7 linked regions of the Homo sapiens genome follow. The protein of the gene in region 4 purifies or fractionates together with the protein of the main gene of each other region. This does not show direct contact. Each region holds a gene or a part of one and is shown on either strand. Other genes may lie near its edges. The genes, in order: NMD3, KLC1, CPSF3, CTPS1, NRBP1, SUGP1 and PUS7.

The links.
Region 1: the proteins of CTPS1 (region 4) and NMD3 fractionate together in Homo sapiens (co-fractionation; one large-scale study listed by BioGRID). This does not show direct contact.
Region 2: the proteins of CTPS1 (region 4) and KLC1 fractionate together in Homo sapiens (co-fractionation; one large-scale study listed by BioGRID). This does not show direct contact.
Region 3: the proteins of CTPS1 (region 4) and CPSF3 fractionate together in Homo sapiens (co-fractionation; one large-scale study listed by BioGRID). This does not show direct contact.
Region 5: the proteins of CTPS1 (region 4) and NRBP1 fractionate together in Homo sapiens (co-fractionation; one large-scale study listed by BioGRID). This does not show direct contact.
Region 6: the proteins of CTPS1 (region 4) and SUGP1 purify together in Homo sapiens (affinity purification with mass spectrometry; one large-scale study listed by BioGRID and IntAct). This does not show direct contact.
Region 7: the proteins of CTPS1 (region 4) and PUS7 fractionate together in Homo sapiens (co-fractionation; one large-scale study listed by BioGRID). This does not show direct contact.

Annotation. Positions count from the first base shown.
Region 1 is NC_000003.12:161,248,811-161,252,310, forward strand, and holds the end of NMD3 (60S ribosomal export protein NMD3), read left to right. Parts: intron 1-643; coding exon 644-750; intron 751-1,445; coding exon 1,446-1,516; intron 1,517-1,969; coding exon 1,970-2,100; 3' UTR 2,101-3,497; downstream 3,498-3,500. UniProt on the Homo sapiens protein: Acts as an adapter for the XPO1/CRM1-mediated export of the 60S ribosomal subunit.
Region 2 is NC_000014.9:103,667,211-103,670,710, forward strand, and holds part of KLC1 (kinesin light chain 1), read left to right. Parts: intron 1-2,300; coding exon 2,301-2,388; intron 2,389-2,971; coding exon 2,972-3,073; intron 3,074-3,500. UniProt on the Homo sapiens protein: Kinesin is a microtubule-associated force-producing protein that may play a role in organelle transport. The light chain may function in coupling of cargo to the heavy chain or in the modulation of its ATPase activity.
Region 3 is NC_000002.12:9,468,654-9,471,127, forward strand, and holds part of CPSF3 (cleavage and polyadenylation specificity factor subunit 3), read left to right. Parts: intron 1-2,474. UniProt on the Homo sapiens protein: Component of the cleavage and polyadenylation specificity factor (CPSF) complex that plays a key role in pre-mRNA 3'-end formation, recognizing the AAUAAA signal sequence and interacting with poly(A) polymerase and other factors to bring about cleavage and poly(A) addition.
Region 4 is NC_000001.11:41,007,196-41,010,695, reverse strand, and holds part of CTPS1 (CTP synthase 1), read right to left. Parts: intron 3,248-3,500; coding exon 3,151-3,247; intron 2,038-3,150; coding exon 1,982-2,037; exon of another isoform or gene 1,903-1,981; coding exon 1,806-1,902; exon of another isoform or gene 1,801-1,805; intron 1,252-1,800; coding exon 1,107-1,251; intron 536-1,106; coding exon 451-535; 3' UTR 442-450; exon of another isoform or gene 438-441; intron 1-437. UniProt on the Homo sapiens protein: This enzyme is involved in the de novo synthesis of CTP, a precursor of DNA, RNA and phospholipids. Catalyzes the ATP-dependent amination of UTP to CTP with either L-glutamine or ammonia as a source of nitrogen.
Region 5 is NC_000002.12:27,435,131-27,438,630, forward strand, and holds part of NRBP1 (nuclear receptor-binding protein), read left to right. Parts: intron 1-2; coding exon 3-97; intron 98-592; coding exon of another isoform or gene 593-616; intron 617-1,622; coding exon 1,623-1,706; intron 1,707-1,916; coding exon 1,917-1,975; intron 1,976-2,131; coding exon 2,132-2,230; intron 2,231-3,500. UniProt on the Homo sapiens protein: Required for embryonic development. Plays a role in intestinal epithelial cell fate and proliferation, thereby involved in the architectural development of the intestine potentially via the regulation of Wnt-responsive genes.
Region 6 is NC_000019.10:19,296,510-19,300,009, forward strand, and holds part of SUGP1 (SURP and G-patch domain-containing protein 1), read right to left. Parts: intron 836-3,500; coding exon 480-835; intron 1-479.
Region 7 is NC_000007.14:105,456,272-105,459,771, forward strand, and holds the end of PUS7 (pseudouridylate synthase 7 homolog), read right to left. Parts: intron 2,989-3,500; coding exon 2,897-2,988; intron 1,656-2,896; coding exon 1,519-1,655; 3' UTR 232-1,518; downstream 1-231. UniProt on the Homo sapiens protein: Pseudouridylate synthase that catalyzes pseudouridylation of RNAs.

The sequences.
Region 1 (3,500 bases), on a different chromosome or scaffold from region 4:
CTTTAGCAGTGAGCAAAAAAAGTAGAGCCATGACAAATCAAGGACTCCGACCACCTGCCCAGTTGTACTTTTATTAGTTGATAAATTAGGAATTAACAGCGTGGTTGGAGTGTAAGTCTAAATAGGTATTTCTAACAAGGTCATAAGAGGAGATCATGGCAATCTTACAATATTTTGTATTTTGTAAAATTATTTTCATTCTATAATTTATTAAACAAGCGTTCTAAGATACATTGTTGTGAAAGTTATATATAGTTCTGTAAATGCTTATTGGTGGGTATAAGAGAAAAAAAGTATCTACTTGTGATATTCAGAATGATTTATATGAATGGTAGCTGAAAACTGAAGTTTGAGTTAAAAGAAAACTACAGTTTTTGTTATTAAGAAAAACAGTATTCAGTCACTGAAAAATTTTAGCAAATTTTAACAATTGTACAAATAATGCTTGAATCCATTCTCATAAAAAGTTAAATACATGGAGAAAAATTTTAAAAGTCCTCTTGACACTGTCTCTCCATCCCTTCTCCTTTCTCCTGAGGTGTAACCAGTGTCATTAGTTTGGTCATTTTTTAGCTTTATTGAATTTTGTGGCCTCACTGTATAGTTCCCATTCTTTGTAACTTTACAAATATTTATCTTGCAGGTATTAATCAAGAAGAGCTATGACCGGACCAAACGTCAGCGTCGTAGAAACTGGAAATTGAAAGAGCTTGCAAGAGAGAGAGAAAACATGGATACAGATGATGAAAGGTCTCGCTTTTCTTTAAATCTCTTATGTTGTCTCAAAGGAAATATTTATGATAAATACTTTTTATGTTGTAAAGAAATAGGCATCACACAATTGATCCTTGCACTCAATTATAATCTTGGATTCTTATCAAGGTATTAATGGAATCAGTATAAGATGATGTAAAGACATTTAACACAGATTTAGTAATTATTTCCTGGTTTATGACCTAATAATTGTAGTGTTAATGTAAACAATTCATTTGAAAAGTTAAAATATAATCATACTTTGCTTAACAATGGGCATACCTTCTGAGAAATGCATCATTAGGTGATTTTGTTGTGTGAGCATCATAGAATATGTGGCACATGACTTTATAATAAATAATTACATTATGAATATCACAAATAGCAGATGAGTACTTATGGCTTGAGATAAAAAGGAAACAGCTCATTGATGCCAAGTGTGTTATTCCTCAAATAATTTAAGCAGAAATGAAGACAGTGTTCTAAAACAGTTTATTGGATGATTCAAAAAGTGGCTTTAATGATGGTGAAGACACCGATGTCTAAAAAAACTGAGAGTTTATATAAAATTGTTTCATGAAATGTGAGTTGGAAACAGCAGTATGTCTACATAGTCCTTAAAATGAAAGTCCTTAAATGAAGAAAATATAACTATATTTTTGGTGATGAAATATTTAAATGTTTATTTAAAGGCAATACCAAGATTTTCTTGAAGATCTTGAAGAAGATGAGGCAATTCGAAAAAATGTCAACATTTACAGAGGTTGGTGTTCTAGGAGTGTTTAAGTCATTTGTTCTGTATATAAGTATAGTTCCTAGTATGAATATTTTGGTATCTTAAGCTTTGATTCTCATAAATGTCTTTAATTGTTTTTTCAACTACTCTAGTCACACTTCTACAAAAAAACTTGCAAAACAATAAATAAAACTTAACAAAATACTGTTTTGTATATTACAGTTAGTATTATTTGCATTCTAGCTTGATCCCTTAAGTTGCTCACTCCTATAGTGGTGGAAGTATATTCTTACAGTTACTCAGTTCATTTGTTCAGTGAATGTAATTTGAATGACTGCTGTAAGAGACAAGAGCTTCTGATACAATGTAGTTACATAATAATAATGATAAGGTAGATATTTGTATATTTTCAAATATATTTAATACTTTGTATACATATAAATACTTTGTATTTATTTTATTCTCTTTGTATTTTTTTAGATTCAGCCATCCCTGTGGAAAGTGACACCGATGATGAAGGAGCACCTCGAATTAGTCTGGCTGAGATGCTTGAAGACCTTCATATTTCCCAAGATGCCACTGGTGAAGAAGGTGCATCAATGCTGACATAATGAGATGTTGTAGACTGTTTCCATACATGGGCTTAAGAAGTTGGACAGAGTTACCTTAAGTGTCTCTACTATCTTTGCCTCCAGATTTCAAGAGGAGAAATTTAGTTTTAAACCTGAATAAACATGTTTGTTTTCAGTGCTCACTCAAACCACTAAAACAGATGGATAGCTTTGAGGTTTTAGATAAGGAAAGATTATGGAGAATGTAGTTGTTATTGATTTTTGGCAATTTTACATTTGGAATTTTATCACTGTGCTTTTTTATATGAGGCACTGTAGTATTTTCACATAGTATAGTACTCTGGATGTAAAAGCTCAAAAATTGTGATTCCTTGAACGTTCACTAAATCTTCAAGCAAAAACACATTTTTACATTATTTTTACGTTGATTATTTTAGTGAAAGACCATATGAAGAAGCATTTTTAATATTAACTTGTTACATACTTTGATCCACTTTACATCATTTTTATGTTGTTGAGGTAGGGAAATTAGGGTTCAGTTTATCACTGGACATTCAGGAGGCAAGTCAATCTTTTTTATTTCCTTATAAAATTAACTCTTCAAAAGCCGTTAAACAGAGAGTTATCTTAATTTTTATTGCAGTAGGAGGAAATATATTTAAAATATTTGTAGATTTATAGCAAATAGAGACTCGTTATTTAAAGGTTAAATAACAATTTGTTCTTTTGTTGTTTTTGCCAGTTTAGGGCAGTAGCTGCTTTTGTCATAAATATCTTCCTACCACATCAAAAATGCTGCTTTTAAAATTTTTGTTTATAAATTGAGAAGGAATTTTCTCTCTATAAGTTTCTGTCATTGAACAGATCACCATTAAAAAGAATATTAGAATCCAGCATGAAGATAATGGCTAATAAAAATGAGGTACATACTTTATAAAACCATTAATCAGATTTGAATGAGGAATGCTTCCCACATCCTTGAAAGAAAAACTGTGGCTTACGTTTTGAAGTATTCTGAGAATGAAGTATTAAGATCCAATTTCTATAAGCAAGATCAGACTTGTTAAGTATGCCGCAAGTAAGAGCTAATTCATTCATTCCATGTGTGCCACTAAATAAAGAGATTGAGCAAGTGCCACTGTGTGGAACATTTTTCTTTTTTTTAATATTGGACTTTCCAATTTTGAAATTATGGATAAAGTCCTAAATTTTCTATAGTGGCTTCTTTTCTGTCTGCATATTTTGTTAAAATTGTGGATCTAAAAGCCATATCCTGTCTTTGGTGGTGGCCTGGTAGGAATGGCTTGTCCTAGTTCTTCAAAGGTAAGATTGACCAAAGCAAGTTCTCATTGGTGGTCTGTGTTTACATCTTCCGTGTCAAGATATTTTAAAGCATGAAAATAAAGCCATTCTTGCCCTTTTTCGTGTGTTTGAAATGG
Region 2 (3,500 bases), on a different chromosome or scaffold from region 4:
AAGCGATTCTTCTGCCTCAGGCTCCCGAGTAGCTGGGATTACAGGTGCCTGCCACCACACCCAGCTAATTTTTGTATTTTTAGTAGAGACAGGGTCTTGCTATGTTGGTTGATCTTGAACTCCTGACCTCGGGTGATCTACCCGCCTCAGCCTCCCAGAGTGCTGGGATTACAGGCGTGAGCCACCGTGCCCAGCCTTGGTAGCTTATTTTTAAATTGCATTTGCTACAATTCTCCTGCCTCAGCCTCCCGAGTAGCTGGGACTACAGGTGCATGTCGCCAGGCCTGGCTAATTTTTTGTATTTTAGTAGAGATGGGGTTTCACTGTGTTGCCCAGGCTTGTCTTGAACTCCTGAGCTCAGGCAGTCTGCCCGCCTCAGCCTCCCAAAGTGCTAGGATTGCAGGTGTGAGCCACCGCACCTGGCCACTACTTTTTGGAACTCTATTTTGTACTTGCTGACTTTCACAAAAAGTTTGAGGCAGCTTACAATAGGATGTAATAGGATGAAAGAAGAAACAACAATATATTAATACGTGGCCAGAATTAGTGTGCTTCAGAGGTTGTAGAAGCCTTATTAACCTTTCTCACGTTTTTCAGGGGAAAGCCTTGCCAGGCAGTTACTACTACTCAATTGAGAAAGATGTGTGCTAAGTCTCAAAAGCAAGTACTTGTTCTCAGTCACATCAGTAGTGAGTAGCACGCTTAAACTGAGAGTTTCTGGTTCTGGGGTGTTTCTGTTTTACTCCAATCAAGAAAGATTCTTCGTTCCTCCATACTCAACAAAATGGAGGGAGACTGGGTACCAAGTTCAGACACAACAATATATTTACTTTTGTTTGTTGTTTTTTAAAATATTTTTTCAGTATACATGTAGCATATCATCTTCTTACAGCAAGACTGTGCAATAGATCATATACTTGCTTTGTAGATGGGAAGGCTGGGACTGCGTGAGGTCACGTAATGCACCCAAAGCCATGTAGCCATTAACTGGTAGAGCCCAAGCTCAGACACTAGAATTAATTCTGTCTGAAACCAAATGCAAGCTTGGTCCATTGTTCTAGACTGTTGCACTTATTCTGTGCTGGCCAGCTGGCATAGGCAGGACAACACTGTAGTGTGGGGACATTATCTTCCCAGTGGCCTAGATGGGAAGGTTAAGTTCAGAAGCTAGTTGGGTCTGATTCCAGAGTTCACCTTGCCAGTCCATTTATTGGTGGATTTCCTTCCAGTGTTTTTTCCCCATCCATAAGCTTGTGGTTTTTCTTTTTTCTTTTTTTTTTCTTTTGAGACGGAGTCTTGCTCTGTCACCCAGGCTTTAGTGCAGTGGCGCGATCTATGCTCACTGCAAGCTCCGCCTCCCGGGTTCACATCATTCTCCTGCCTTAGCGTCCCCAGCAGCTGGGACAACAGGCGCATGCTGCCATGCCCGGCTATTTTTTTTTGTATTTTTAGTAGAGACAGGGTTTCACTGTGTTAGCAAGGATGGTCTCGATCTTCTGACCTCGTGATCCGCCCGCCTCAGCCTCCCAAAGTGTTGGGATTACAGGCGTGAGCCACCACACCCATCTTTTTATTTATTTATTTTTTGAGACAGTCTCACTCTGTCGCCTAGGCTGGAGTGCAGTGGCACGATCTCTGCTCACTGCAAGCTCCACCTCCCAGGTTCACGCCATTCTCCTGCCTCAGCCTCCCGAGTAGCTGGGACTAAAGCCGCCTGCTACCACACCCGGCTAATTTTTTTGTATTTTTAGTAGCGATGGGGTTTCACCATGTTAGCCAGGATGGTCTCGATCTCCTGACCTCGTGATCTGCCCGCCTCAGCCTCCCAAAGTGCTGAGATTACAGGCATGAGCCACTGCACCCGGCCCTGTGGTTTTTCTTAAATAGTTTAAGCTTAACTTTTATTTCTGTAGTTGAAAATTACATTTAAAAAAGCTGTAGTGAGGCCGGGCACGATGGCTCATGCCTGTAACCCCAGCACTTTGGGAGGCCTAGGCGGGTGGATCATGAGGTCAGGAGTTTGAGACCACCCTGGCCAACATGGTGAAATCCCGTCTCTACTAAAAATACAAAAATTAGCCGGGCGTGGTGACAGATGCCTGTAATCCCAGCTACTCAGGAGGCTGAGGCAGAGAATTGCTTGAACCCGTGAGGCGGAGGTTGCAGTGAGCCAAGATGGCACCACTGCACTCCAACCTGTGCAACAGAGTCAGACTCTGTCTAAAAAAAAAGAAAAGAAAAGAAAAGAAAAGCTGTAGTGATCTACATCTGAAACACTTAATGTGTGTTTTTCCATTTAGGGATCAGAATAAATACAAAGATGCAGCTAACCTACTGAATGATGCCTTGGCTATTCGTGAGAAAACTTTGGGCAAAGATCATCCTGCGGTTTGTATATCCAGTTCTTTCATTCTTTTAATATTTTATTTTCCCCATATATTTCTTTTATCCAACTCATTTTACCATTAAACTCAACAGGGAAAGTTTAAGTGCTGCCTTTTCCCTAGATGGTGCAGGTAGGAGGTCTTCACTTACTCAGTGCTAGTGACAGGCCAGAGCACACTTAATTTGTTTATGACCCCACCTCAAATGGATCACCAACTGTATTGTTTGATTGTAAATCAAATTGCATGTCCTTCTAGAAATTTTTTTCTGAAAATTATATTGTCTTCATTAAAATCTGGTCAGATTTGCATATGAATCTGTTTTGGTTGGCTTTGTGGCTTCCAGGGAAATTTTTAAAAAGTCAGGAATACGTTGTTGATTTGTTTAATTTTAGTATTCTGCAGTGTTACTTTGTATAATCTATACTCTAGTGAATTGCGCTTTTCATTTTAACTGAAGTCATATTGTTCTATCCGACTAAGAATGCTTTACTGTATAGATTGAATATAAATGAATATGTGGTGTATAAATGTACTCTTATTTGGTTATCTTTTACCATTCTTAGTGGTTCTCTCTGTGTTGACAGGTGGCGGCGACTTTGAATAACCTTGCAGTCCTTTATGGTAAAAGAGGGAAGTACAAAGAAGCAGAGCCGTTGTGTAAAAGAGCTCTGGAAATCCGAGAAAAGGTACAAAAGAAGGGGGCAGTCGTTTTCTTTGAGATTTTTGTTTTGTGTGTGTGTGGTTTTTTTTTTTTTTTTGAGATGGAGTCTCGTTCTGTCACCGGGCTGGAGTGCGGTGGCGTGATCTCGGCTCACTGCAACCCCCACCTCCATGGTTCAGGTGATTCTTCTGCCTCGGCCTTCCAAGTAGCTGGGACTACAGGGACACACCACCACGTCCACCTAATTTTTGTATTTGTAGTAGAGATGGGGTTTCACCATGTTGGCCAGGATGTTCTCAATCTCTTGACCTCCTGATCCGCCCGCCTTGGCCTCCCAAAGTGCTGGGATTACAGGCTGAGCCACTGTGCCCGGCGCTGTTTTTTGTGTTTTTAAAAATTTTTCGGTTTTAGGTTTTGAGAAATAACCACTGTGATGTGTTTTTAACTGACTA
Region 3 (2,474 bases), on a different chromosome or scaffold from region 4:
TCTCACTCTGTCGCCCAGGCTGGAGTGCAGTGGCACAATCTCAGCTCACTGCAACCTCCACCTCTCGGGTTCAAGCGATTCTCCTGCCTCAACCTCCCGAGCAAGTGGGACTATAGGCGCATGCCCACCACACCCAGCTAATTTTTGTATTTTTAGTAGGGACAGGGTTTCACCATATTGGCCAGGCTGGTCACGAACTCCTGACCTCATGAGCCACCTGCCTTGGTCTCCCAAAGTGCTGGGATTAGAGGTGTGAACCCCCGTGCCCGGCCCACTAAAGCAGCAGTTTAGTGGCTTTAAAAAAAAATGATAGACTTTAAATGATGACTTTGTTTATAGAAGTTGTCATACATCTTCAAAACAGTATTCTCTGTGTTGTCATTTTGATTTTAAAGAGCATTCCTCATACAAAACCAGCCAACAGTGCAGGCACAGTGATTACCATGGCCGTTGAAAAGGCCAGAGATTTTACTGGTTCCCACCCCTGGAGCCTCTGGTTCTCTTAACTCATTTTGCAGAGGGCTCAAGTCTGCCAGCGTTGAAGTCTGAGTATCTTAATCATTTTTAGATCCTTCACCCCTTTGGCAGTCAGGTAAGGCTGTGGGGCGGGGGCAGGGGACACACATATATGCAGTTTTACCTTTGATTTCAAGGAGGTTAGACAACCCCCTCCCCACAGGCTATCCTGGGACCCCCGGTTAAACAGCCCTATTGTAGAAGGTGGGTGTTGCTGACCAGGGACTTGACTACAATAGTTCTGTTGGCGGCCCTGTTCCCTGGGGCTCTACAAGAATAGAAAACCCGTGTGGCCCTGGACTGGCCCCGCTCTCCCACGTGCTGCAGTCGGGGTGCAGAATGGAAGTTCACATTGCTGTGGCTGGTCCTCAGGAGCCGTGGGGAGGGCAGTCTGCGGGAGGCTGCGGCCCTTCCACTGGACTTTCACTCTGGCCTTCTTCCCTGTCCTCCTGACACCACTCCTCCCGCCTCCCCTCCCTCTCCCTCACCTCCCACAAACACACCAGAACTATTCAACTCTGAGGAACAGGAGTATGAGACAGCTTCCATTCGGCCAGGAATGGGAGGTTCCCATGTCCTTAAACTTCAAAGCCAATCGTACCCTTAAAAATGCAGCTATTTCCCCAGTTGTTTAAACACTTAGGATTAGATAGGAGTAGATGTATTGGTTTCTTCAGAGAAGCCAACAGTGGATCACATGAAAATGGAACCTTTTTTCCTATCCTTTTGAATACATTTCTGTGTTTAAAATATAATTTTTTTGGCTGGGTGTGGTGACCCACACCTGTAATCCCAGCACTTTGGGAAGCCAAGGCAGGTGGATCACTTGAGGTTAGGGGTTCGAGACCAGCCTGGCCAACATGGCAAAACCCCATCCAAAATACCCCTACTAAAAATACAAAAATGAGCCAGGTGTGGTGGTGGGTGCTTGTAATCCCAACTACTCAGGAGGCTGAGGGAGGAGAATTGCTTAAACCAGGAGGCAGAGGTTGCAGTGGGCCGAGATCGGGACACTGCACTCCAGCCTGGGCAACAAGCAAGACTCCGTCTCAAAATAAATAAATAAAATAAAATATAATCTTTTCCTTTGTGCTAGGGTCCCACCTAAGTTTATTCACACATATGATGAGCAGTAACTGCCTGAAGATGCAAGGAGTTGATTCCCACTCCCCACTTCCCCCGCTTAATACAGTGTTGTCAGTGCTTAACTGTCCTAGGCTGACCATGGTCCATGGGTTGTTTAGAGTCACTGCCTGCCTTTCTTACCTGCATTCAGCCTGCTGGTGGACTGCTGTTTCCTAACACCTCTGTACCAATGGGGACGATGTTGAAATTAACCATCAAAACTGTTTCTCTCGATGACAGAGGCAATGTCTTAGTGCCTTCTTTATCCCCAGCTACTAGCACAGAAGGAATCTGCCACACAGAAGATGCTCAATAAATACCAAGTTTAATTAAAGTAGGAGTGCACAGCTAGTGGGCTTGGGAGCCATTTAAACCTAGATACCTGGATTTGAATGCCGGCTCAGCTGTTTACTAGCTGTGAGGCTTTAAGCAAATCACTTAACTTCTGTGTCTTGTTTTCTTCACATGTAAAAGGGGATCCTTACTAAAATTATAGGTTAAGATAATGTATATAAACCACCTAGCATGATGCCTGCTGAATAGATCATTCTTGAATAAAGCTGTGTATTTTCCCTGTTTTATAAACTTAATAAGCTGTATCAAGGCAAATAAGAAGCTTGTCTCAAAAGTAAATACAGGCTGGGCATGGTGACTCCTGCCTGTAATCCCAACACTTTGGGAGGCCAAGGCAGGTGGATCACTTGAGGCTAGGAGTTCAAGACCAGCCTGGCCAACATGGTGAAACCCTGACTCTACTAAAAATACAAAAATTAGCTGGCTGTGGTGGTGCACACCTGTAATCCCAGCTACTAGGGAGGCTGAGGCAGGAGAAT
Region 4 (3,500 bases):
ACCTGAGGCTCTGCAGAAATGACAAGTGCCACATTGTTGTATCTGTCCCTTCCTTCAAGATCTCCAAAATTTACAGCTACATCAAACAATAGGGTCTAAGAATTCAGACCCTCCCCTTCCCCGCCCCAGAACTGGTCAGACTGGCACCAGAATGTAGTAATCAGTATTGAGACAACTGCCCAGTGACCATGCTCCCCAAGCTGTCATCCCCAGGGCAGGACTGGGAGGTGCACTGCAACTTGGAGGAAGGGCTGCCCATTTGATACCCACAATGACCTCACTACTTTCTTTTCTCTCTCAACCTCTGGATTATATTCAAGACCTCACCACTTTCATTCCTGGCAGATAAAAATTTTCAGCCCTAAACTTCCATGATATTCTTGCAATCGCAGTGTGTTATCACCATGTTTTTAAAAACTAAAACTTTAAAGTACCACTTACGCTACAAGATCAGTCATGATTTATTGATGGAAACTTCAGTTCGGTGATTTCAGAGTCAGGGGAGCTGCTTCCACTCCTGTCACTATAGGTGTCCCTGTAGAATTCAGATGGTTTACGCATCATCTCCCACCAAAAACTCACTTTACGTCCCTGTTTTTGTAACCACGGTTCCTACAGGGACACTTGCCTGCACATGGCAGGAATCACAAAGACTGTTTGCTACATAATATATTTAACATGAAACTGCAGAAAGATTTCCTTCTTCTAGCTACAAAAGATATACATTCCATTTATACTTCAGTCACACACCCTACCACCAACTCTGAGTACTGGTTCTGGATAAAGGTGGCAATGGGACATAAACCTACCCATTGTGGCTTACTTCCCAGGAAAAACTAGTTCCCCTTAACATGGACCAGAGGGTCCTACGCCAAGTGTGATCTGGTCAGCACCACCAGAGCTCAGATGCTGCAGAAAGGGGGACCTGGCCAATATGCCAGGGAAACACCGTGAGAAAGCTCCGGGAAAGGAGAGGAAACTTTCACCCCAGGCGCCTGTGGCTTTTTTTTCTTATGACTGACTGTGACGTGTTGCTGTAATGAATCAGCGACCACCTAAAGGACTAGAGAAGACTAATGGATTACTGAAGCAAAGAGTGCGCCTACCTGGGTGAGAGCCTGCAGCCTTTCTGGAGGTAATGTGAGAGCCGCCCCACAGAGGCCAGGAGGAGGCCAAAGTATGGTGGGGAGGGCTTGATAGGCCTGGACAGGAACTCAGGGTGGTACTGAACCCCAACAAAAAAGGGATGATCTGAAATAGAGATTCAAAAGAAACAGCTTCATTGTGAAGGTTATGCACAAAGTGTAAAAGAACAAAATCTGCTTAAATGTTTGTTTCCATAGGCCCTAAAATAATTTGAAAATGACTTTCTCATTTGAATCTAGATAAAGGGAACCTCAAAGCATGAGTGATCTGATACCCTTTCTCAGCACGGTTTGTGCTGTCCCCTCCTGGCTGAAGGCCTCCTGTCCAGGGTCCCGCCCAAGACCCTGGCTCCCAGGATTTCTGTAGACTGAGTCTTGCGGTTCAGGAGAGGGCTGAAGTGGCTTTAGTACCAACTCCAAGCATTTTGGAGAAGGAGAAACTGCGGCCAGAAGTTAAATGGCTCCCCGAGGAAGGCCATGTACCAGAAAGAAGTTTCTAGAGTCCAGACCCCATGTTTATCAAGACCCCTTCCCTCATGAGACAGTGCTGCTTCCTAATTCTGTTAGGTCAGGAGCAACAAGATAACATTTTTATATTTTCCCATATGCCAAGAAAACTTTACTAAGTTTTCCATTAAATAAAACTGCCCGAATAATCACCTTCTAACTCCACAATTTCCATTCTCTCTCCTTCAACATCTTGGCCAACAAACTTCAAGCCTTGTTCTTCCAAACACTTTTTCCAGACTGGATTCACCTGTTGAGGCATGAAAAATAATTCTGCTGGTCTCTCAGCTCACTATCTTTCCAGAGTACCAGCAAGCTGGAATCCTCACCTCAAATCGGTGGCGGTGCCTCTCTTCCAAGTAGTCTGCGTCTCCATAGAGTTTCCCTGGCAAAACAAACGGGCTGTATGTAAAGAACTTTATCTCACAGGATGATGCGTTCACAAAGACATCCTCCTTCCTGCTTTACTTTTCATCATCCACACAGCCAGGTCTTTTGAGGGCTATTTCTATGAATCTGCTAAGGTCACCTGCTCTTAACAACACAGTTTAGACTAATTCTTGGGCTTTTGACTCTTTCTGACAACACTACAGAAAGCTGTAACAGAAACAAGACTCTCACCACCACCCTCAAACACATGATTGCAAAGTATGGGCACTTTGCTGCTAGAAAACTGCCTTGGAAAGCAAATCAGGATGTACGAAACGGCAAGGCCCTGGGAACGTGGCAGGATGGGAGGCATTTTAAGAGCTGCACAGATGACCTCTGATGATCATTCAGTTCCAATCATGGTCATCAAAGGTCATCAGCCCTCAGTGGCTGCATGTGAACAAGCTGGACATTTGCGAACGGGCTGCTCTACTGACTCATTTCACAGTTGCCTCGAGATCCCCAAATCCACAGAACATCAGAGTTGGTAAGAGAAAGATCCGATACTCAAGTGACTCCAGCTATGCTGCTACAGAACGCCCAGACAGACACAAGGGTGCCTCTGCTAATACAGTAAAGGCAGAATTTTCCCAGTAGACAAGAAGGAAATCTGTGTAATAGTCATTTTCTTAACTATTTTCCTCCGAAAACTACCCTAAACCTTCAGCATCTATTAGTACTTTATTAGAACAGAATCTACTTAGGCTGAATCATATGAAATTGCCATCTTTGTGTGACAAAAATTGCCAAACATCAGCAATTGATATGGCTGGTCTTAATAGGAAAGTAACCGATAAGGATGAATGTAACCTCACTGCCTCATTCTGTTGAGGCGCCCATGCCTAGGAGTCTGACTGCACTGCCAGTGTCCTTTCTAAGACCCACACTGCTTCTATGGCTATCACAGTGCATCCTAAAAGGGTATGAATAAGAGAGGAAAGAATGAACTTCAAAAGCAAGAACGAAACCAAAAAAAGCCAGCCTGCTCCTCGAAGCCACAGCATCACCCTAAGACACGCGTCCTGGGCACGCAGAGCCAAAGGCTGGGCCAGCGTGAGGCAGCTCTTACTCATGACTGAGTTCTTGGTCTGGAACAGGGTTCTCCTCTTGCCCAGCCTCATGGTTCCGCCCATCTGCCCTGGGTTGTGTTCTGGCATGTCTACGACCTGGAGATGTTCAGAAAACAGACACCAACTACAGAACTCTGCTTCCGCTAGAGAGAAACCTCCCTCGCTGAGTGGGTGGCAAAGGCTTGTAAGTAAGCTCTAATTCTCCAGGCTTTCCTTATGAGACATTTTGTCACAGAAGAAAATGCCTCCCAGTTGGCATTTGTAACCTCGGTTGGGTGGAGGCTCCGTCCTTCAGCCTGTCCTCCTGATCTGCAGACAGGACCACAGCAGCCCCTCCTCAGGCTAGTCC
Region 5 (3,500 bases), on a different chromosome or scaffold from region 4:
AGCTACCTGCACTCCTGTGACCCCCCCATCATCCATGGGAACCTGACCTGTGACACCATCTTCATCCAGCACAACGGACTCATCAAGATTGGCTCTGGTGAGGGGAGGGAGAGGTTCTGGGCAGGGGAGCCTCGGGAATTTGGGAACCATGGGGGTAAGATGAAAGGAATGGGGGATAACAGAGCAAAATTCTGAGGTGTGGGCTGGTGAGAAGAGAAAGGACCTTGCTAGGAGTAATTAATAGGAGAGGCCAGTTAATTAGTGGAGAGGGGGTAGGATATATAATCTTACACCTTTTTGAAGGGAAAATTGGGGTTAATACAGAGATACTGATAAGAGGCTGGGAAAGGGCAAGAGATAGGTTTGAGGTTTGATTTGAGTCCTGGGGCCAGACCCTGCCAGAGGAGGTTCCAGGCTGTTCCTGCTGTGAGTGCTTTCGTTTGCTGTGTATTGTATGCAGTGTACAACATTTCTGTGTGCTGTGTCTGTGTGGTATTTGTGTGTCCATTTGTCTGGGGCTTGGCTGCTCCATCGCTCACAACTTTTCTCTGTTTTCCTCCCTCCCGCTTACGGGCTGCTCTGTTCCCAACAGTCTTTCATAGGATTTTTGCTAATGGTGAGAGCTCCCTCTGCCCCACTTGGGGCTCTGTTTGTGCTCCCTCTGCTCCCTTGGCGGCTGCCCAGTGCATGCAGTCGTGGGAGCAAACCCTCTTCCCCTATCTTCCCTGCCTAATTATGCCTGCTTAGCTTCTGCCCTGCCAGCCCTCCGCCTGCTTGCCCCTTCATAACCTGCTTGTTTCCTGTGGATTCTGCCTGGCTGGCCACTTACCTCCTGGATTCATGTTCTCCCTCATCATCAGGCTAGTTCCCAGATCATACTGTGCTCCCAGATTCTCTGTGACTTGTAGTCATTGTTTATGATCTGAGTGAGTCCAAATTGGGCCTGGTCCTGGTTCCTCGTTCAGCTCTGTGGCAGACAGTGTTGAGGAATAAGGGGGTAGAACAGGAGTCTAAAATGTTTTGGTGGATTAAAAGTGGAACAGATTCAAGGGTATTAGCTCAATTCTGAGCTGTTTTGAGTTTCACTCAGCAAAGGTGGGTAAGAAGGAGGCTACCTCCTGAGCTGTATGTTAATACTTCTTATCCTTATTTATCCAAGTTCCTGAGGTCTCCAATTGTCCCAGATTAGGAAGGGCTGCCTGTGTTTTTATGTTATTTGCAGGGTGGATGAAAAAACTAAAACCAAATATTTTCATGTGAGCAGGGATTAGAGGTACCTGGGATTTAGGGAAGGTGAACGCAGTACAAGTGAAAATTTTTCCTTAAACTTCATTGCTTCTAGACCAGCCTGAAGCCCCTGTGTATCTGTTAATTTAGTCTGGTGCTTTTGTTGCTCCTGATTTAGGGACATTAGATGAGAAGCAGTAGGCCTAAGAAAGGGGAGGTAGGTGGCATCCATGTGTGGTCTGTAGTTCAGGACAGGAAAGGGAATATGTTTGTGCCTGTTGAGGGTCATCAGAAAGGAGACTTCAGGAGAGAATTTGGCTTTTGGGGCCTCTCTCTGGAGTGAGACTATTCTTCATTGATGATGGTCAGATTGTGGGTGTCTCCCCTACTCCCAGTGGCTCCTGACACTATCAACAATCATGTGAAGACTTGTCGAGAAGAGCAGAAGAATCTACACTTCTTTGCACCAGAGTATGGAGGTGAGCCTTCCTGCTTTCTCTGCCCTGTCCTCATCCCCCTGCTTTTGCACCTTATAACTTGAGGTACAGAGGCAATATAACTGAAACTTCTAGGCCTTCTCTACCAGCATACAAAATATTTTTCTTTTCTTTTTTTTTTTTCCTAAGGCATTCCTGCCAACCCTAGCCCCCAATCCTCTGATTAACCAAAGCCTTCTCTGTTTTCCCTAGAAGTCACTAATGTGACAACAGCAGTGGACATCTACTCCTTTGGCATGTGTGCACTGGAGGTGAGGGGACTGGAGGGGAGGGGGGAAAGGGGTCAGATGAGAAGATGGAATTGGGAATGGAGGGAAGACAAGTAAGGCGCTGGCTTGGAGGGAGTGATTGTGGGAGCACTGAAGTTCTTAGGTGTCTACTTTTTTTTTTATTCTTCCTCACTGAAGATGGCAGTGCTGGAGATTCAGGGCAATGGAGAGTCCTCATATGTGCCACAGGAAGCCATCAGCAGTGCCATCCAGCTTCTAGAAGACCCATTACAGAGGGTAAGGATCTTCAGGATCACTCCCTCCTCAACTGACCTTCAAATGTCTTCTGGTTTTTCTTCCTTTGTACCCACTGGGTATATGCTCCTAAGAGCTAGGGAACATAACAGAAAGGACACGAAAAATCTATAAACATTTTCTTAGGAGGTGCCTACCATGTTTTTGCATAGAAACACACAGGTAAGGGGGTTAAGATGGATGATGCTGGGGTTAAAAGTTGTGTGTTGGAAGCCGGGCATGGTGGCTCACGCCTGTAATCCCAGCACTTTGGGAGGCCGAGGCGGGCGGATCACGAGGTCAGGGGATCGAGACCATCCTGGCTAACATGGTGAAACCCTGTCTCTACTAAAAATACAAAAAAAATTAGCCAGGCTTGGTGGCGGGAGCCTGTAGTCCCAGCTACTCAGGAGGCTGAGGCAGGAGAATGGCATGAACCCGGGAGGCAAAGCTTGCAGTGAGCTGAGATCGCGCCACTGCACTCCAGCCTGGGCGACACAGGTAGACTCCGTCTCAGAAAAAAAGAAAAAAAAAAAAGTTGTGTGTTGGCTGGGTGCAGTGGCTCACACCTGTAATCCCAGCACTTTGAGAGGCTGAGGCGGGTGGATCACTTGAGGTCAGGAGTTTGAGACCAGCCTGGCCAACATGGTGAAACCCTGTCTCTACTAAAAATACAAAAATTAGCTGGGCATGGTGGTGTGTGCCTGTAGTCTCACCTACTCGGGAGGCTGAGGCAAGCTTGAACCCGGGAGGCGGAGATTGCAGTGAGCTGAGATTGGGCCACTGCACTCCAGCTGGGGCAAGAGAGCGAGACTGTCTCAAAAAAAAAAAAAAAGTATGTTAATTTGAATGTGTCTACATGGAGGTAAATTAATTTGATGGTTACTTCAGGCCATTGCTGTATACTCTCAGACAGCCATTTTTATATTTTTAAGCACATCAGTCAATTTAAATTAAACCAGTTGTTTGGGATTTTATATTTATACAGTTTTAGTTAGGGACGGTGGCCTGAAATAATGAGCTAAGATTTAAAAGACATAAGGTTATGAATCAGTTGATAGACTATAGTAAGCAGAGCCTGGGCAGGAAGGTCCAAACAAGAACAGTTTGTAACTCATTAGATAAGTATAGTAGGGAACAGGAGAGAAAAGAAGACTAGTGGGAAGTCAGGAGGATAGTGTGGAGTAAGTTTCTACTTCAACATTGAGGTGGAGTATTCAAGTGAAAGATTAGGTATGTGACCTTGTTAGCCTTCAAGGTTAAAAGCAGGAAA
Region 6 (3,500 bases), on a different chromosome or scaffold from region 4:
GGTGGCGGGCACCTGTAGTCCCAGCTACTCAGGAGGCTGAGGCAGGAGAATGGTGTGAACCCAGGAGGCAGAGCTTATGGTGAGCTGAAATCGCACCACTGCACTCCAGCCTGGGCAACAGAGCGAGACTCTGTCTCAAAAAAAAAAAGAAAAAAGAAAAAAGAAAAAAAAGGCAGAATTGCAATAGGCCCAGCAATTCCACACCTAGGTATACCGACAAGAGAACTGAAAACGATTCAGATAGTCACAGCAGTATTATTCACAACAGCCAAGCAGTGTAAACAACCTCTGTGAATATAAGAGTTCATTCACAGATGAGTGGGTAAGCCAAATGTGGTATGTACACACAGTGGAAGATATGGCCACAGAAGGAATGAAATTCTGATACAAGCTACACTGTGGATGAACCTTGAAGACATTATGCTCAGTGAAAGAAGTCAGACCCTTCCAACACAGGGAGGGGGAGAGGGTCTGCCCACCTGACAGAGGCGAGGGAGAGGCATCCACGTCCCTCTGCACCAGTTCAGCAGGTGGGAGCTCTACCTTATCCTCTTCAGGCCCCCACCGGCTCTTCCGCTTCCTCTTCACGGTGGCTGCGGAGGCTGGCTTCCCGGGGGCAGCTGGAGCAGGGATGATAGTGGGCGCAGGCGTGGACGAGGCGGGGCAGGTGGTGGCTGGGGGTAAGGACCCTGACAGGGCCTCAGGAGGGGACTTGCGCTTCAGGCCGGGATCAGGTGCTGTGAAGCTGCCTGTGGAGCTGGCCTTGGCTTTCCGGAACTCCTCCAGCTTCTGTCGGTAGTACTTGTACCCTTGGCTATTGGGCTCATACAGAAAGCTGCAAAGGAGAGTTGGGGGGTGCAGTGTCAGCTGGGCCCGAGGCCCTGTCCCTGATTCTGGGCAGGAGCAGTTCTGGCCTTGTGTGCCCACGTTGGCCAGGGTCACTATATGGTCATGTCATAGTCACGGTCTCCACCATGACCTCCTGCCCTGCCAGGCCTCCTGGCAGTGACTGCTGGTTCTGGTGGCCCGATGCCCTTCCTTTGAACTGAGTCACTCCAATCCTCACCCTGTCTTTATCAGGCACCCATCACACTGTCATTGTTCACCCTGCTACAAAGGGAAAGGGCAGGGACCCTCAGACCCTTCCCCAGGGCCTGGGAAAAGTGAGACATTCACACCAAAAAATCTCAGATTGTGGGGAGACACCAGACACGAGACAGGGCAGAGGGACTTGTCTTGATCCCAAGGGCTTCTCAAATGCATCTTTGAGACAATGAACATCAGAACGGACCAAGGAGCTGATTTCTACCCCACGTGGGGGCAGGCAGCCTCAGGGAAGTGTGGCTTCCAGTGAGGCTGGGAGCACAGGTCTTCTCTGTCCCTACCCAGCCTGAGGAGCACAGCAGGTGGCGCTGGGTTCAGAGCCATGTTCCGCACCTACTGGCGCCTCTCGGACCGTACACATCCCCAGTCCACAGGACTGTCTTTGGGGTCTATGCCAAAAGGGAGAGTCTTGGCCCAGCTCCACATGGCAGAACACGGGAGAGAACTGAATGCATGTACAGCCCTGAAAGCATGTTACAGTGCTGAACAAGATGGGGCTGGACCTGCACTTGTGAATCTGGAGGGATGGTCATAGCACCAAGGCGTGCAACTAATGTGAATTAAAGGGTCAAGGATGCTGTGAAGTCCCTTTGTGTTACAGAGGCCGGGCGCGGTGGCTCACGCCTGTAATCCCAGCTCTTTGGGAGGCCGAGGCGGGCAGATCACCTGAGGTCAGGAGTTCGAGACCAGCCTGGCCGACATGGTGAAATCCCGTCTGTACTAAAAATAAAAAAATTAGCTGGGCGTGGTGGTACACGCCTGTAGTCCCAACTGCTCGGGAGGCTGAGGCAGGACAATCACGCGAACCTGGGAGGCGGAGGTTGCAGTGAGCCAAGACTGGGCCACTGCACTCCAGCCTGGACCAGAGTGAGACTCCATCTCAAAAAAATAAGATAAATAGTGAGCGAGCAGCAAGAGACCCCTTAGACAGTTTCTAGGTGAGCCTGTGTGTCTACGGCCCTGCTAACATCCGGTACCTCAAGAGGGTGGGACAGAAGGACAGGAGATGACAGCATCTTCTCTGTAATCCTGGGTCATGGTACACGTGTGACCCAGTGAGGAACATATGCAAAGATTAAGAGGTAAAAGCAACAACTGTTCAGGAGAGAAGGGAACAGTTGGTCAGATTTGGAAAAGACACTTGACAGCCGGGTGAGTTCAGACATGGATTTGAGAGGCCAAGCTGGGGAGGCTCACTTGCTAGGGCGAGCAGGCATCGGGGTGTGGGGGCCCCTTCCTGGTCTCAGCTGGTGCTTCACCCTGAGTGTCCTCCAGGATGGTCCAAGGATGCATCACAGTCCCCTGGAGGGTCTGCCCATCTCGGGGAGGGGGTTACAATGGCACTCAATGGTAGACCCCCATGAGGGGGAGAAAGTGGAGCCCCCCAACACCCCATCTAGAACACGGCTGGGTGCACCACCAAGGTTCCCCTCTGGTGGAACTAATCCCACCCTGAACCCAGGGATAACCACTGTTAAGGTGTTTCCTGCCAGTTTCAGCAAAGATTTATCTTAATAGAGCTGTGATCCTATACATATCCCAGTTTTAAAAAAAATTTCTGCCTCAAGCTGATGACATAAGCCTTTCCTATTAGAACAGTGGAAGCATGTTCACTGACTGGCCTTGCTTCAGTTCCCTCACACTGGGCTGCCAGCTCACATGGGTGCCTTCTGAAGGCGGCATACTCCACTGGGGAGATGTGCTGATGATTTAACCCACAGAGGTTGGACGCTGACTGTGTCACTGACTTTTCTTTTTTTTCTTCCTTTTTTTTTCTGAGACGGAGTCTTGCTCTGTCGCCCAGGCTGGAGTGCAGTGGCACAATCTCAGCTCACTGCAAGCTCCGCCTCCCGGGTTCAGGCAATTCTCCTGCTTCAGCCTCCTGACTAGCTGGGACTACAGACGCCCGCCACCACACCCGGCTAATTTTTTTTTTTTTTTGTATTTTTTAGTAGAGACGGGGTTTCACTGTGTTAGCCAGGATGGTCTCGATCTCCTGACCTCGTGATCCACCCCGCTCAGCCTCCCAAAGTGCTGGGATTACAGGCATGAGCCACCGCACCCGGCCTACTGACTTTTCATTACAGCTGATGCTCTATTGACATGATTTCCAGGATGTATCTCAGAAATGGGAGAATGACTAGTCCAAGGGATGGGCGTTTCCAGCTTTTCATTTTTTTTTTGTTTTGTTTTTCAAGATGGAGTTTCACTCTTGTTGCCCAGGCTGGAGTGCAGTGGTGCAATCTTGGCTCACCGCAACCTCCGCCTGCCGGGTTCAAGCCATTCTCCTGCCTCAGCCTCCCAAGTAGCTGAGATTGCAGGCATGCGCTAATTTTGTATTTTTAGTAGAGACGGGGTTTCTCCACGTTGGTCAGGCTGTTCTTGAACTCTCGACC
Region 7 (3,500 bases), on a different chromosome or scaffold from region 4:
AGCTCTTTTCCATTCCTTTCTTTTCTACTCCATAAAGCACATTGGAAGGTGAGTGAGTGATTCCAATAACCTGGAGTCCAGTCCAACACAGTCAATTATTCGTAGCATTTGACTCAGATTATCCTCATACTTCACAGCTGATCACAACACATTTTGGTGTCACCACCATTTCTGATGAGGATCCCACATTCATTTAGTTCCTTACCTTTAGTCAAGGTCAAGATTCTTATCTGCACTCATTTTGATATATTTATTTGATTTATTTACATAACCAGTAGAAAGGAGATTTTAAAAATATTTATTACATTTGTTTCTAGAAATCATAGAAAATAAAAATTGATACAATTTTGATATACAACTTTAGAAAGGCATATTTATCCTTTCACACCAGAGAAGTTTATGCAATGCCAGACATGGAAATACCAAAGCCACTGGTGACAAAGGGTAAACGCTACTGATAGAAGAAAGCCTTGTCCATTTTTATAGTTTTCTTCTCTACCATTATTTATTTTTGAGCAAATACCAGTCCAGTGGAAAGAGTTCTGAACATAAAAGGCACCTAGAGTAAAAATTAGACCTTAACTAATAAAACAGCTGTACACGTTTACATCAAGAAAAAAAAACCCGGCCAGCACAGCTCATGCCTGTAATCCCAGGAGTTAGCCTCGGCAACATGGCCAAACCCCCGTCTCTACAAAAAAATACAAAAATCAGCTAGGCGTGGTGGTGCGCGCCTGTACTCCCAGCTACTTAGGAGGCTGAGGTGGGAGAGTCACTGGAGCCTGGGAGGTCGAGGCTGCAGTGCAAGATTGAGAATTGCAGGATTGCACTGCAATCCAGCCTGTGCTACAGAGTGAGATCCTGTCTCGAAAAAAAAAATAAAAAAATAAAATGGGCCTATCAATGCAACGTTCCTGCAAGGCATTGATAATATAAATGCAAAAGCCACCGCAACCAAAAAGTCTATAATGCTTGCCTGAATCTAGTACATAAGCAGGATAATGACAATCACTTTTTGTTTATAAATTTGTAGATGTCTTATTATTTCAGTCAGCATGAGTACTGTATTTATATTTGTGGGTGGCAGCTCTCAAATTATTTATCCATAGTCCAGATTTGTTTTGTTGCATTTGCTCTTAAAATGCATTGTTGTATACTCCATCACAGATGTGTCAAATACTCCTGCTGTCTTTTGAGAATGTAGCAAAACCTAAACCTGCTACTTTAAACCAAAGTCCTTTTTTTATTATTGTAAAGCTGACATTTTACTCTGATTTAAGCACCTGAAGTGTATTTTGACTAATTTATATTCTGAGCTAAAATTAAGAACCTCAGGATTTGTGTACATGTACAAATATTGCAAATTATTTCTTTAAGCTAATAAAAACTTAAAAATACAAATAATTTTTATTACAAAGATTTGAAATCCATATATGAGTCTGAACTAAGACAAAAATGCACAGGGAGCCAGGAAGCAAACACTTGTGTACGTTTTCTAATCTGTGGACAAGGTACTGCTCAGCGAAGCCAGGTTGTATTCAGCTGCGTCTGGTTCTTGATACTGGTATCCATTTTTAGCACTTCTCGAATGGCCATGGTGGCGTAAGTAGAAGGGGGTAGAGAAAAATCCATTTTCAGAGCCCTGTATTTGCCTTCTGCAAGGCAAGAAAGAAAACAGTCAGAAAATGAAGGCAGCTGCAGACAGACCAGCGAGAGTCACATAATCTCTAAGCAAATACAAAGAACTGTGCTGCTTTCCTTAGACTCCACTTCCTAGGGGGCCTTGGAGAATGAGACCATGGAAGTAAGAGATCTGTGAGTGTGAACCTGCTGAATGGTTACAGAAATTCTGCCCAGGAACTTTCACAAAAAGGCAGATGACAGAAGAACACAAAAGAGAAACGCATGTAAAGTTAAAGAAATAATAATAAATTACGGCCTGGGAAAAAACAGAACAAGAATTTGATGATGAGAATGCCAATTTAATTAATTAATTAATTTTTTTTTGAGACAGAGTCTTGTTATGTTGCCCAGACTGGAGTGCAGTGGTGTAATCTCAGCTCACTGCAGCCTCCACCTCCCGGGTTGAAGCGATTCTCCTGCCTCAGCCTCCTGAGTAGCTGGGATTACAGGTGCCCACCACCACGCCCGCCTAATTTTTTTTTTTGTATTTTCAGTAGAGACGGGGTTTTGTCATGTTGGCCAGGCTGGTCTGGAACTCCTGACCTCAAGTGATCCACTTGTCTCGGTCTCCCAAACTGCTGGGATTACAGGTGTGAGCCACCACGCCCAGCCACCAATTTTTTTTTTTTTTTTTTTGAGATGGAGTCTCGTTTTGTCACCCAGGCTGGAGTGCAGTGGCGTGATCTTGGCTCACTACAAGCTCCGCCTTCTGTGTTCACACCATTCTCCTGCCTCAGCCTCTCCAAGTAGCTGGGACTACAGGAACCCGCCACCACACCCGGCTAATTTTTTGTATTTTTAGTAGAGACGGGGTTTCACCGTGGTCTCGATCTCCTGACCTCGTGATCCGCCCGCCTCGGCCTCCCAAAGTGCTGGGATTACAAGCGTGAGCCACCGCACCTGCCCAACCAATTTAATTTTTTAGACTCTTCCTGAATTTTCACTCACCTTTGGTAAGTCTCTGTGGGGGATGGGGAGAAATACTCCATCACCTAATATCACAACCATCTATAACATGCACTTATTTTCAGGAGGATTTACTGGTTTTAATCACTAACTTTCAGCCATAATTGTGAAAGTAAGGTCATAAAACACAACAATGAAATCATGGGTGGTGGTAGTGCTTGTAAGAGCAGTTTTCAAAAAAAAATTATGTTTTTGTTTAACAAAACATTTCAAAGTCAACACAGAGCTGATGACTGAGTAAACTTACCAGAAGCAAAAACTGGTGGTGTCTTCCCTTCTAGGTTGTCCACATCTGTGTTGAAAAGTGGAATTTTGGGATCATCATATGCAACGACTTCCCTTCAAAACATATGAATAAAGATAAGTGTGAATGTGAACTTTCATAAAAGGTACTAAGCCACTCATCATCATTTATTTAGCAAGAAAAACAAGTAAGTTTACTGTAAATAATTATAGTTAGGAATCTTGAATAATATAGCAGGGCCAGATTTTATACCTAAGTTTTGCTTATATATATAATTTTTTTTTTTTTTTGAGATGGAGTCTCAACTCTGTCACCTAGGCTGGAGTGCAGTGGTGTGATCTTGGCTCACTGCAACCTCTGCCTCCTGGGTTCAATCAATTCTCCTGCCTCAGTCTCACAAGTAGCTGGGACTATAGGTGTCTGCCACCATGCCTGGCTAATTTTTGTATTTTTAGTAGAGATGGGGTTTCACTATGTTGGCCAGGGAGGTCTCAAACTCCTGACCTCAGGTGATCCACCCGCCACAGTCTCCCCAACTGCTGGGATTATAACGTGAGCCACTGTGCCTGAATATAATAGGCTCAATCCAATTATATTCTATTAGTTA